2 linked regions of the Homo sapiens genome follow. The protein of the gene in region 1 interacts with the protein of each later gene in a biochemical or structural test. Each region holds a gene or a part of one and is shown in the gene's direction. Other genes may lie near its edges.

The links.
Region 2: the proteins of REV3L (region 1) and REV1 form a complex in vitro, tested with the Homo sapiens proteins (one study listed by BioGRID).

Annotation. Positions count from the first base shown.
Region 1 is NC_000006.12:111,480,143-111,487,634, reverse strand, and holds the start of REV3L (DNA polymerase zeta catalytic subunit), read left to right. Parts: upstream 1-4,416; 5' UTR 4,417-4,746; coding exon 4,747-4,885; intron 4,886-5,023; exon of another isoform or gene 5,024-7,492. UniProt on the Homo sapiens protein: Catalytic subunit of the DNA polymerase zeta complex, an error-prone polymerase specialized in translesion DNA synthesis (TLS). Lacks an intrinsic 3'-5' exonuclease activity and thus has no proofreading function.
Region 2 is NC_000002.12:99,399,790-99,403,131, reverse strand, and holds the end of REV1 (DNA repair protein REV1), read left to right. Parts: intron 1-25; coding exon 26-243; intron 244-331; coding exon 332-488; exon of another isoform or gene 489-785; coding exon 786-888; intron 889-1,779; coding exon 1,780-1,891; 3' UTR 1,892-2,655; downstream 2,656-3,342. UniProt on the Homo sapiens protein: Deoxycytidyl transferase involved in DNA repair. Transfers a dCMP residue from dCTP to the 3'-end of a DNA primer in a template-dependent reaction.

The DNA of each region.
Region 1 (7,492 bases):
CATACAATTGAAATGCTCTTATATTTGCATTTTAAAACGGCATTACACAATATAAAGATGAATGGTAAAATTCATCCTAAGAATTAAAAAATTTAATTTTTCTTCTCATAGAATGACATTAAAAAGCAAATTTAAAAACACTATGACAAGTGGAGAGAGCGACGACAGAACAAAGAAAAAGCTTTATATTTTAATACAGATAATAGCACATTTTCCCCTGTGTTGGAACAAGAGGCCTTACGTTTTCATTTTGCTCTGGGCTCCACAAATTATGTAGCTGGCTGTGACTGGGCTGGTTGAAGCAAAAAGGGATTAAAAGATACTATTTAGTTCACAGATCTCTCAGAGGGCCAGAGAACCAGACTTGGATAAACCAAGCTAGAAACAACATCCAAGAAAAACCAAACCACAAAGAACACCCATCCCACATCACAAAGCTATTCTAGTGGAAACCCATCCCAGCAATGCCTGCCAGTCAGCACCTATGACTCTAGAACAGATGCCACAACTCCTCCCTACCTACCCAGAGGAACCAGATACCTCCTTCATGGTATTTGTCAGAAGATACTTATCTCCCTGAGTGCAGTTGAAGCATCATGTTGCTCGCTCTCACATCCATGTCCTGAATGGGTACATCTGATTGCTGGAAACTAGGTCATATACTGAAGCCAACTTCTGATTGTCAGCATCCTTTCCAACTAACTCCACATTTACTGAAGTCACTCTGGTAGAGGACACATTTGTACCATGTAGTCCCAACTAGTTGGCAGGTTGAGGTGGGAGGAGCCTAGCAGTTCAAGACCAGCCTGGGCAACATCGTGAGACCCTGTTCCTCAAAAAGAAAGCAAACCGAATTGGCCAATGCTACAAATTAGGGCCTTCCCTCTTCTCTAGCCATTGTTAAACATTTACTGATCACACCATTGATCTCACACCAGCAATCTAGCTGCAAAGGAGTCTGAGAACTGTAGTTTGTTTTCCAGCTTTTAAAGTACAGAAAAGTAAGCAAGAAGAGGGTTGGATGAATACTGAATAAGCCATCTTATAGTATCTGCCACAAAAGTATGGTAGCTACTACTGTCTGTTCTAGATTATAAACTGCTAACAGGCAGATGTTAACAGATGTTGAACAGTATTGGTAAAGGAGACTTGGTAGGCTTTTACTAAAGGCAGACATGCTAAGTACATGTCAGTGAACTAGAAGAGATGATTAAATGTTAATTGATATGATTAAAATACATTTTTAGGATGCTAGACTATAAACCTTATAAGGGAAGGGACCATGTCTGTTTTGTTTCTCACCATATCTCAAATCTCCTGGCAAGAAATAGCCACCTAAAAAAAAAAAGAAAGCACAGTCAGGTGTGGTGGCTCACACCTGCAATCCCAGCACTTTGGGAGGCCAAAGTAGGCAGATCGTGAGGTTAGGAGTTCGAGACCAGCCTGGCCAACATGGTGAAACCCCATCTCTACTAATAATACAAAAATTATCCAGGCATGGTGGCACATGCCTGTAGTCCCAGCTCCTCGGGAGGCTGAGGCAGGAGAATTACTTGAACCCGGGAGGTGGAGGTTGCAGTGAGCCAAGATTGTGCCACTGGACTCCAGCCTGGGTGACAGAGTGAGACTCTGTCTCAAAAAAAAAAAAAAAAAAAGCATTAAGGATATTAAGTATAGAGTTCAATTTTTGCATTTCTCATACTGTATGTAGATAAGTCAATTCCAAGTGATTTTACTGTTTCTCAATGAATCAGACTTCTGGATATGAACATTTTACTATATTTTCACATACATTATCTCATTTGAGCCTTATAACATCCCTGAGAAGTTAAAACAGGAATTACTATCCATTTCACAGATGAGGAAATAAATTCCAAAAAATAAGTGAGCACTTAGCTAAATGATGGTTTAATATTCACATTCTCTGACTCAAAATTCCAGAACTTTTTCTTACTTCAGGAAGAATATACATATAAAACACATTTGATAGTGGTTAATTAGGGGGCTATTGTCAGGTTTTCAATTTGAGCATCAACTTAAAACTAAATTACATGCAATGAACACAACATTCCTAATTTCATGCTGCAAATGTTTTTCTTCAAGAGTGAACATTCTTGGAGTTCTAGAAGGATTTGACTTGTGGTTGCAACTGCCTTTTCTTAAAGTAAATAATGTTGATTCAAGAGGTAAGGGGAAAGAAACCCTCTTCTAGAAATCGCAAATCTGTTAATTTGATGCTTTTACCATTTTCTAGTTAGGAATATTATAATTTAAAAGTTATGGATACACTGATTATAATATAGTACAAGGATTCTCAATTTTATTTTGCTTAAGAATCACGGGGTGGCAAGTAGTGTTGCTAACAATACAGATTCCCAGGCCCCATCCCCCAAAATATAATTCAGTAAGAGCCAAAATATCAACACTTAAAGAATTCTAGGTGTCATGGAACACTGAGAATCACTGATATTGTGTATCTGACATTCGGCGTGTACAAAATATTTATTTTATAAAAAATACATTTTAGCATGGTAGTCATATTTTAAAATCACTTCTATAGCCTTCTAAAATTTCAGATCAAGAGATTTTGCCTCTTAAAAATATTAGCTAATTTCCAGCATATTAGTAGAAATCTTGCCACGTATGTTTATAATCATGCTCTGAGGTTAAAAACTACAAGCTAATTTACTGTAGTAATCAGTCTCAAATCCCTCGGAGCGTAAGTTCTTATTATAGCATTTATATGTTAGGGAATTTATAGACAGCTTCTTACCAGTGAGCTGTCTCTTTGGGCCTTTTGATTTTCCTATTTGAAAATCCACAACGGTTCCAAACGAGTAGCTCTCACACCACTTCAAATACGTGGCAACCTGGTAACCACTAAAATGCACCTGTATAACACACAAATGTAAAAGAACGATCTCTACTTGGATGGGTTAGAAATGTGTCAAGGGTCCTAATTCAGGGGCAAATTTCGAACTTGAACCCACGCTTTCTGCCTCCTACAGCTTGCATCTTTTTGTTGAGAAGAAACCCTTCAGGATTAGTTTTTAAGAGAAACCTTCCCGTTTTACATATGTAGAAACTGAGCCCAAAGAAACAAAATTATTTGTCCAAGGTCACGCCCAATATCAGTGGCCAAGTCAGAGAGGAACCCCTTGTTTCCAATTTAATAGCCAAGCCAGCTGCATGTTACTACTCTTTAAAACAAAAATTCCCTAACTGCATCGCTTCACCCCCTCTCGATTTTTGAATAAAGTTGTTTATTCAAAACGGCCCTTCCCCACGGTGGTGCTTTTATGCCTTCGGGTAGTAAAACCTTCCATAACGTGTTAGTGAAAAACACGAGGAGGCCACGTCTAACGCGGTGACTTTCACAGGCCTTTTTCTTTGGCCAAAATTTTCTCGGAAAGACTGTTAATCCTACATTCCGCTGGGGGAGGAGCGACGAGGGAGGAGGGAGGTCACCGGCAGCTGACAAGTCCTTACATGTACTTGCGCGTGCCCGGGACGCAGCCTGCGGGGCCGAGGAAACCAACGAAGGATGTATTAGGACGAGAGGGAAGGAAGGGGGCGGGAGAAAAACACGGTAGTGGGAAATCCCTGTGCACTGGATCTGCCAACCCCTCGCAAAGCTGAGAAGAGCCGTGCGTGAATAAATCTCATTAAATGGCCCGGCGCAGACACTGCAGCAGCAAAGAGGAGGGGGCACCGCGGCTCGCGCGGCACGTTCGGGAAGGGGGAACGCCAGGGCGGCCCTTTTATAGGCCGAAGCCCGCGCCCGCGCGCCCCCACCCTTCGCACCGCCCCCGGGCCACGCGCGGAGCCGCGGCGTTACCTGAGAAGGGCCGGCTGCGTCCGCACCCGGCCCCGCCCGTTCCGCCGCCCGCCCGCCCTTCCCTCCCGCGAGGCCGCAGCGGCACGAGATCTGCGCCTCGCCTCCCTCCTCACGCGGGCGGATTTTCTTACCTTGTGAAAAACCGTCTCAGCGGCTGCCCCCGCCTCCTCTGCTGGATGTGAAATGGCGGTCGGCGAGGCAAGTGTGAGCATCGCAGCTCCTGCCAATCCTGCATAGCCGCCAAAACGGCCCCGAACACTGGCGCCCCCCTCCCGCAAGCCCCTCGGAGCCCATCCATGAGATCGGTGCTCCGCCGCCCCTTCCGCTGCCCCTCACCCAGGTGACCGTGCCCGCCAGCCGAGTCATCGATCCCGCGCGGGCGCTGCCGGCCGCCGGCCGCCTCCCTCGCCGCGTGCCCGGGGAGGGGGAGAAAGCCCCTTCTCGGCCCCCGCCCTCCGTGTCCCGCCCGGGCGCCCGCCCTCTCGCTCCTTTTCCCGCCGAGCCCCCTCCCCCGCACTACTCGCAGCCTCCCTTCGCCACACACACCCCCCTCTCCCCTCCCCCCAGTGGTTGCGTCCGTGACATCATCATCATGGCAACAAGAGCTGCAGCCTGGGACCGAGGAGCCCGTGTGATTCCCGGCGGTGGCGGCAGTGGCGGCAGCACCAGCACCGACGAAAGCTCGAGGGCTTCTCTCCTGCGGCCCCTTGCCGGGTGCTCCTGAGGAGGCGGCGGCAGCAGCGCCTACACCGCCCCGCCCGCCGCTCCTCGAGGTGCCTCTGTGTGAGGGGAGGGGGCCGTGCCGAGAAGGGGAGGGGGCGCCGCCGCCGCTGCGGAGGGAGCCGCCGCCGCTGCTGCTGCCGCTGCCGGGTCGCCAGTGAAGGGAGGCAGTGGCGGCGGCGGCGAACATGTTTTCAGTAAGGATAGTGACTGCAGACTACTACATGGCCAGCCCGCTGCAGGGGCTGGATACCTGCCAATCCCCCCTCACCCAGGCCCCTGTCAAGAAGGTGCCGGTGGTGCGAGTCTTCGGAGCGACCCCGGCAGGTAAGCGGGCGCCGGGCGCGGGGCGGGAGCGGGAGTCGGCGGGGCGCCGGGGCCGCCCTCCCCGCCGCGCACACGCGCACACGCCACCGGCGCCGGCCGTCTCCGTGGATCGCTGCCGCGTCTTCCCTCCCCTCCGCCCTCCTCGCCTTTTCTCTCGTGCGTGACAAGAGCCGCAAAAATGTGGGTCCGCGCGAGCGCTGCGCGGCGCCCCCACCCCCGGGCAGGGAGGTGGCGAGCGCCGCGTGTTTAGACTGCGTGTGGCGGCCGGGAGCGGGAGCCGCACTCCAGGGCGCGGGCCGGGAGAGCGAAAGCCGCGGGCGCCCCGGACGGCGGGCCAGGTGGCCGCGCCATGTCCATCGGTGGACGGGTTCGTAGGGCCTGCTCTGAGGTCGGTCGCTAGTGGGACATCCCTTGTGTCCCCCAAGTGCCGCTTTCTGGAAACGGGGAAGTGTCAGCCTTGTTGTCAGTCGCTCCCCATGGTCTCTTCTCACCCTCGCTCTCCTCTGCCAGTTCCGGAGATGCAGTGGGCCGGAGAGAGTGGCGCTTGGGGCCAGATAATCTTTCTCACTGGGGTGACCGTGTGGCTCTGCTGTGAGTGCAGGTCGTGACTCCTTAGAGTTTAGTGCCTGAGCGTCGGGGGACAGGGCAGCATCCTTAGGTGCAGTGCTTTCAGGAAATGTGCATCCATGGAAGTAGGAAATGCGTGTTTATGTTGCCCAACCTAAAACATCACACTTAATGGGGTGAATTTATTAGGAACCACAGCCAGACTCAGCAGCACAGACATTTTGAAATGCTCCTAGGCTGGGCTGTAGGATTGCGTTTTAAGTACAGGTATATATTTTTTAAACACAACTATGTTGAAGAAGGGATGGGAAGGGGAGACAGCCGTGACAGAAGGTACGTTCTCAAAAACTCCTGGGGCTTATGATAATATAAAAAAGATAGAGGCCCAGTTTACTAGGTGTTTTAAAATGGTTTTGCTTTTTTGCATGCTTTGAACTGCTTCCATGAAATAATGGAGTTCTAGGAAATAATGCATCTTAGGAAAGGTTGTTCTTCCCTCTAGCTATGAATTGCCCTATGGGATTTTAGATAGCATTTCCCACTTGATGCTCCTTGCCCTCATCACCATTCATCTTATTACTACAGTCAGTTTCTGTGGACTACCAAGATAATAGCGCTTTCCCAAACACAAGCACTCATTTTAAAGCAGTTATCTTTTAATGTGAATTCTCTTTGTTAAAATGTCAATGTTGTGAGATTTGGTAGCATATTCCTATTTAAACTAGTGAATATGATTTTGATATGAACCTTGAAAGATGGGGAATTTGAGTGCTTTTAACGTGTTGAAAGTGTAACACTTGAAACTTTGGAGGCTGGGAAATCGAGGCGATGAAGTGTTCTATAAGATAGGTTTTCTGCCCTTTTAAATATAGTGGTGCTGTCTTTGTTTCCAATTGGAATTTCAGTGTAATGCACTGTTCTCACTTCAGATGCAGAGGAAGGATAAAATAGTGAAGTTGATATGGCCCTGTTCAGCCAAATTTCCGAATCATAAAGTGACATGCTAATAGGATATACTGTGGCATTTCTGTGTATTACAGCTTGTATGGTTTGAGTTACTTTTCCACACATAATTTTTTCTCCTCCACACAAGTCATTAAATATGTTTTCCTGAGAGATAGTCAAGCTTTGTTGTATAGGAAAGTTTCGTTTGTGGAAATAAATGAGTTTCACTGTAAGCTAATGTAATTCTATTACGTGAGGAAATGTTCCTTAAAAAATAAAGAATATTATATACTGTTGTTTTCCTGAATATTTTTTAAAAGACACATTAACTATTTCCTATTTAATCCTTCATGGACATCCCACAATAGATTACCAGCACCTTAAAAAAAAAAAAAAAAACAAAAACGAAAAAACCAAAGACTAAAAACCCCCATTGGGGTTTTTTTTTTGGTACATACTTTGAAATTTATATTTTAAATGAATTAAAAAGTAACACTTTTTATATGTACATTGAAAGACATAAAACTTGATACAGAGAAAGTCAAATTTTAAATTGTTAAGGATTATCAAATTGAATTTGCCATGTAGTTCACAGTTTCCAACAAAATGTTTGTTTCAACAAGAAAAAATTTGAAGTCATTGGCATACATTTAGAGTTTACACTTTTCATAAACCAAGCCAGCATTTTTATTAGCACGTCAGAAACTCCCAGTGAGATTAATATTAATTAAACATAATCAAAAACTGCAGAATTACCTGCTTTTGAATTATCTCCCCAAGGAAAACTAGTCCAATAAAATAAAACTTGAAAATTATTAATATAAAAGAGAGGCCAGTCTGACTTAGTAAAACTCTGAATGCTAGAATTTTTAATGAAGACAGATTTATTTGAAAGTAAAGATGTAAACATAATGCAAAGATATAAACATGGTTTGTATTATATCTTTATAGTTTATATCTTTACTAACAAGTAAAATAAGGTAATAAAAATGTGTAACACATGATAAACCTATGCTACATAAAATAGCATAAACATACTTTTTTCATATATAAGAATTACTTTGGGAGGTCCTTAATGCTTTACTTTGGTTTGGA
Region 2 (3,342 bases), on another chromosome or scaffold:
GGATCTTATATCCATCTGCTCTTAGTGCCAAAGAATCCTTTACTTCATCTAAAGGCAGCAGTGAAAGAAAAGAAAAGAAACAAGAAGAAAAAAACCATTGGTTCACCAAAAAGGATTCAGAGTCCTTTGAATAACAAGCTGCTTAACAGTCCTGCAAAAACTCTGCCAGGGGCCTGTGGCAGTCCCCAGAAGTTAATTGATGGGTTTCTAAAACATGAAGGACCTCCTGCAGAGAAACCCCTGGTAATTCCTTAACTTTGACCTTTATGAGATCTTAATATACCTGGATAATGTGTGAATATAGCAATTTTATCCTTTGTTTTCTTAACAGGAAGAACTCTCTGCTTCTACTTCAGGTGTGCCAGGCCTTTCTAGTTTGCAGTCTGACCCAGCTGGCTGTGTGAGACCTCCAGCACCCAATCTAGCTGGAGCTGTTGAATTCAATGATGTGAAGACCTTGCTCAGAGAATGGATAACTACAATTTCAGGTTGGCTTGGCCTGTGTTAGATGGCCCAAGGCTGAGATGTAGTCGTCTCATGATTTGAGAACATAAACAGACTAAACTATGCAGATTTAACCCATTTCTCTAACTCTGATAAGCTTAAAGCAGCTACCCCCAAATCTTTTAAATTCTGGGACTTGCTTTGAAAAGTAACAAAGCCCATTCCTTTGATAGCTGTTAGTGACATAGTTGTAGAAATGCAGTTTTCCTTTATCCATGCAGATCTCTGACTTTCTCCTTCAAAAAGACTGGTCCTCATTTGAAGTTTTTCCCCCTTCCTAGATCCAATGGAAGAAGACATTCTCCAAGTTGTGAAATACTGTACTGATCTAATAGAAGAAAAAGATTTGGAAAAACTGGATCTAGTTATAAAATACATGAAAAGGTAGTAATTCATCACTTTTATCAAATGGGAAAAAATGGCATGTCACAATGGCTGAGGGTGTACTGAGTTGTTTTAAACTTTCTGGGAAACTGTACTCATTAGGGTTAATGAGAAAGTGATATCCTTTATTTTGCCATGTTGACTAAGTAGCAAATAAGGTTCCAAATATGTTGCCCTCAAGGTCTTACATGTGATTAAAAAACCATAGGAAGTGGGCTGGGCACAGTGGCTCACGCCTGTACTTCACTTCGGGAGGCTGGGGTGGGTGGATCGTTTGAGACCAGCCTGGCCAAAATGGCATAACCCCATCTCTACTGAAAAATACAAAAAATAAATAATCTGGGGGGGTGGTGGTGCCCACCTGTGGTCCCAGTTACTTGGGAGGTGGAGGCTGCGGTGAACCATGATTGCACCACTGCATGGCTCCAGCCTGATCGACAGCTTGTCTCAAAACAAAATAAAAAAAAATTTGAGTGTTCTAGGATTTTATTTTTTTTGAGATGGAGTCTCACTCTGTCGCCCAGGCTGGAGTGCAGTGGCAGGATCTTGGCTTACTGCAGCCTCTGCCTCCTGGGTTCCAGTGACTCTCCTGCCTCAGCCTCCCGGGTAGCTGGGATTATAGGCATGTGCCACCATGCCCACCTAATTTTTCTATTTTTTGTAGAGACGGGGTTTTACCATGTTGGCCAGGCTGGTCTCAAACTCCTGACCTCAGGTGATCCGCCCTCCTCGGCCTCCCAAAGTGCTGGGATTACAGGCATGAGCCACACCGCACCTGGCCAGGACTTTTTTTTTTTTTTGCCAAAGTCAATTTTTATATATAAAAAGGAATAATTAGTCTTAAGGACCTTTCCTAATTCCTAATGACATTTCTTCTCTCCCCACCTTTAGGCTGATGCAGCAATCGGTGGAATCGGTTTGGAATATGGCATTTGACTTTATTCTTGACAATGTCCAGGTGGTTTTACAACAAACTTATGGAAGCACATTAAAAGTTACATAAATATTACCAGAGAGCCTGATGCTCTCTGATAGCTGTGCCATAAGTGCTTGTGAGGTATTTGCAAAGTGCATGATAGTAATGCTCGGAGTTTTTATAATTTTAAATTTCTTTTAAAGCAAGTGTTTTGTACATTTCTTTTCAAAAAGTGCCAAATTTGTCAGTATTGCATGTAAATAATTGTGTTAATTATTTTACTGTAGCATAGATTCTATTTACAAAATGTTTGTTTATAAAGTTTTATGGATTTTTACAGTGAAGTGTTTACAGTTGTTTAATAAAGAACTGTATGTATATTTTGTACAGGCTCCTTTTTGTGAATCCTTAAAAACTCAACTCTAGGAAGCAACTACTGTTTATTATACTAAAAGGCTGAAAAACCTCCAGGCCAGACTGCTAAGCTCTGAAATTCCTGAGAGGTCTCAGACCGGGATTCTACTTGTTCCAAGAAAGGGTAAAGCTTCTAAACCATCTTATTCTTGTCTCCAAGCATGAACACAGGAGCATGTTAAGAAAATCTTTACTACTTCTTCCATGCGGAGAAATCTACATATTTTGAATTAGAAACACCCTCACACCCACTTGAAGATTTTTTTCCTGGGAACATTATGTCCCGTAGATCAGAGGTGGTGTTGTCTTTTTGCTTCTACTGGCCATTGAGAAACTTTGATGATAAAAAAGAACGGTATAGATTTTTCAAACGTATATAAAATATTTTTATGTTATATGTTATGCCATAACTTTAAAATAAAAATAGTTTAAAATTCTATGCTAGTGGATATTTGGAACTTTTTCCTCAAACAAACACCCCACACTGACTTCAGCAAAACCCTAAAACTAGCTACAGATTACTACTACGAATGAATCATTAAGTTTTGTGTCTGCAACAATTTAGAAGCACTAAGCCCAAATATCAGGAAATGTGTGTATGATGGAATTTTCTAGGACAAAACAGATCAAGATTAAAACAGATCAAGATTAATGTATAAAAATCTCTACTAAAACAGATCAAGATTAAAACAGATCAAGATTAATGTATAAAAATCTCTACTGTTACCAGGTGCTGGCATACAAGGTAGTGTGATGATAGTTTAGTTTGTAAGATAATTCTTGTCCTAGGAGGACAACTTGTGGGAGAGAAGCTACACTAACATGGAAGCCTAACAGAGCTTGCTTACTGGTGGATGTCTGTTTTCTTTATTGGTAGTTTGGTTTAGAATTGTGATGATTACAATGGACTCGTGACTACACAAGCAGTAAAAAGCAGCCAGCTGTGCTTTTACACCATGGTTTCACACAAAGCAGCTAAAGAAATATCAGAATGCCTAATTTTCTATTTTATAAAAGCCCTAAAGGCATATGGCAGAAGAATGCTGGAAAAATCACTGTGGGAAGAATATGCATAAATAAAGAAGTATTTCTTACGTCAAAAAAGTCCCAAGAATCACAAAATC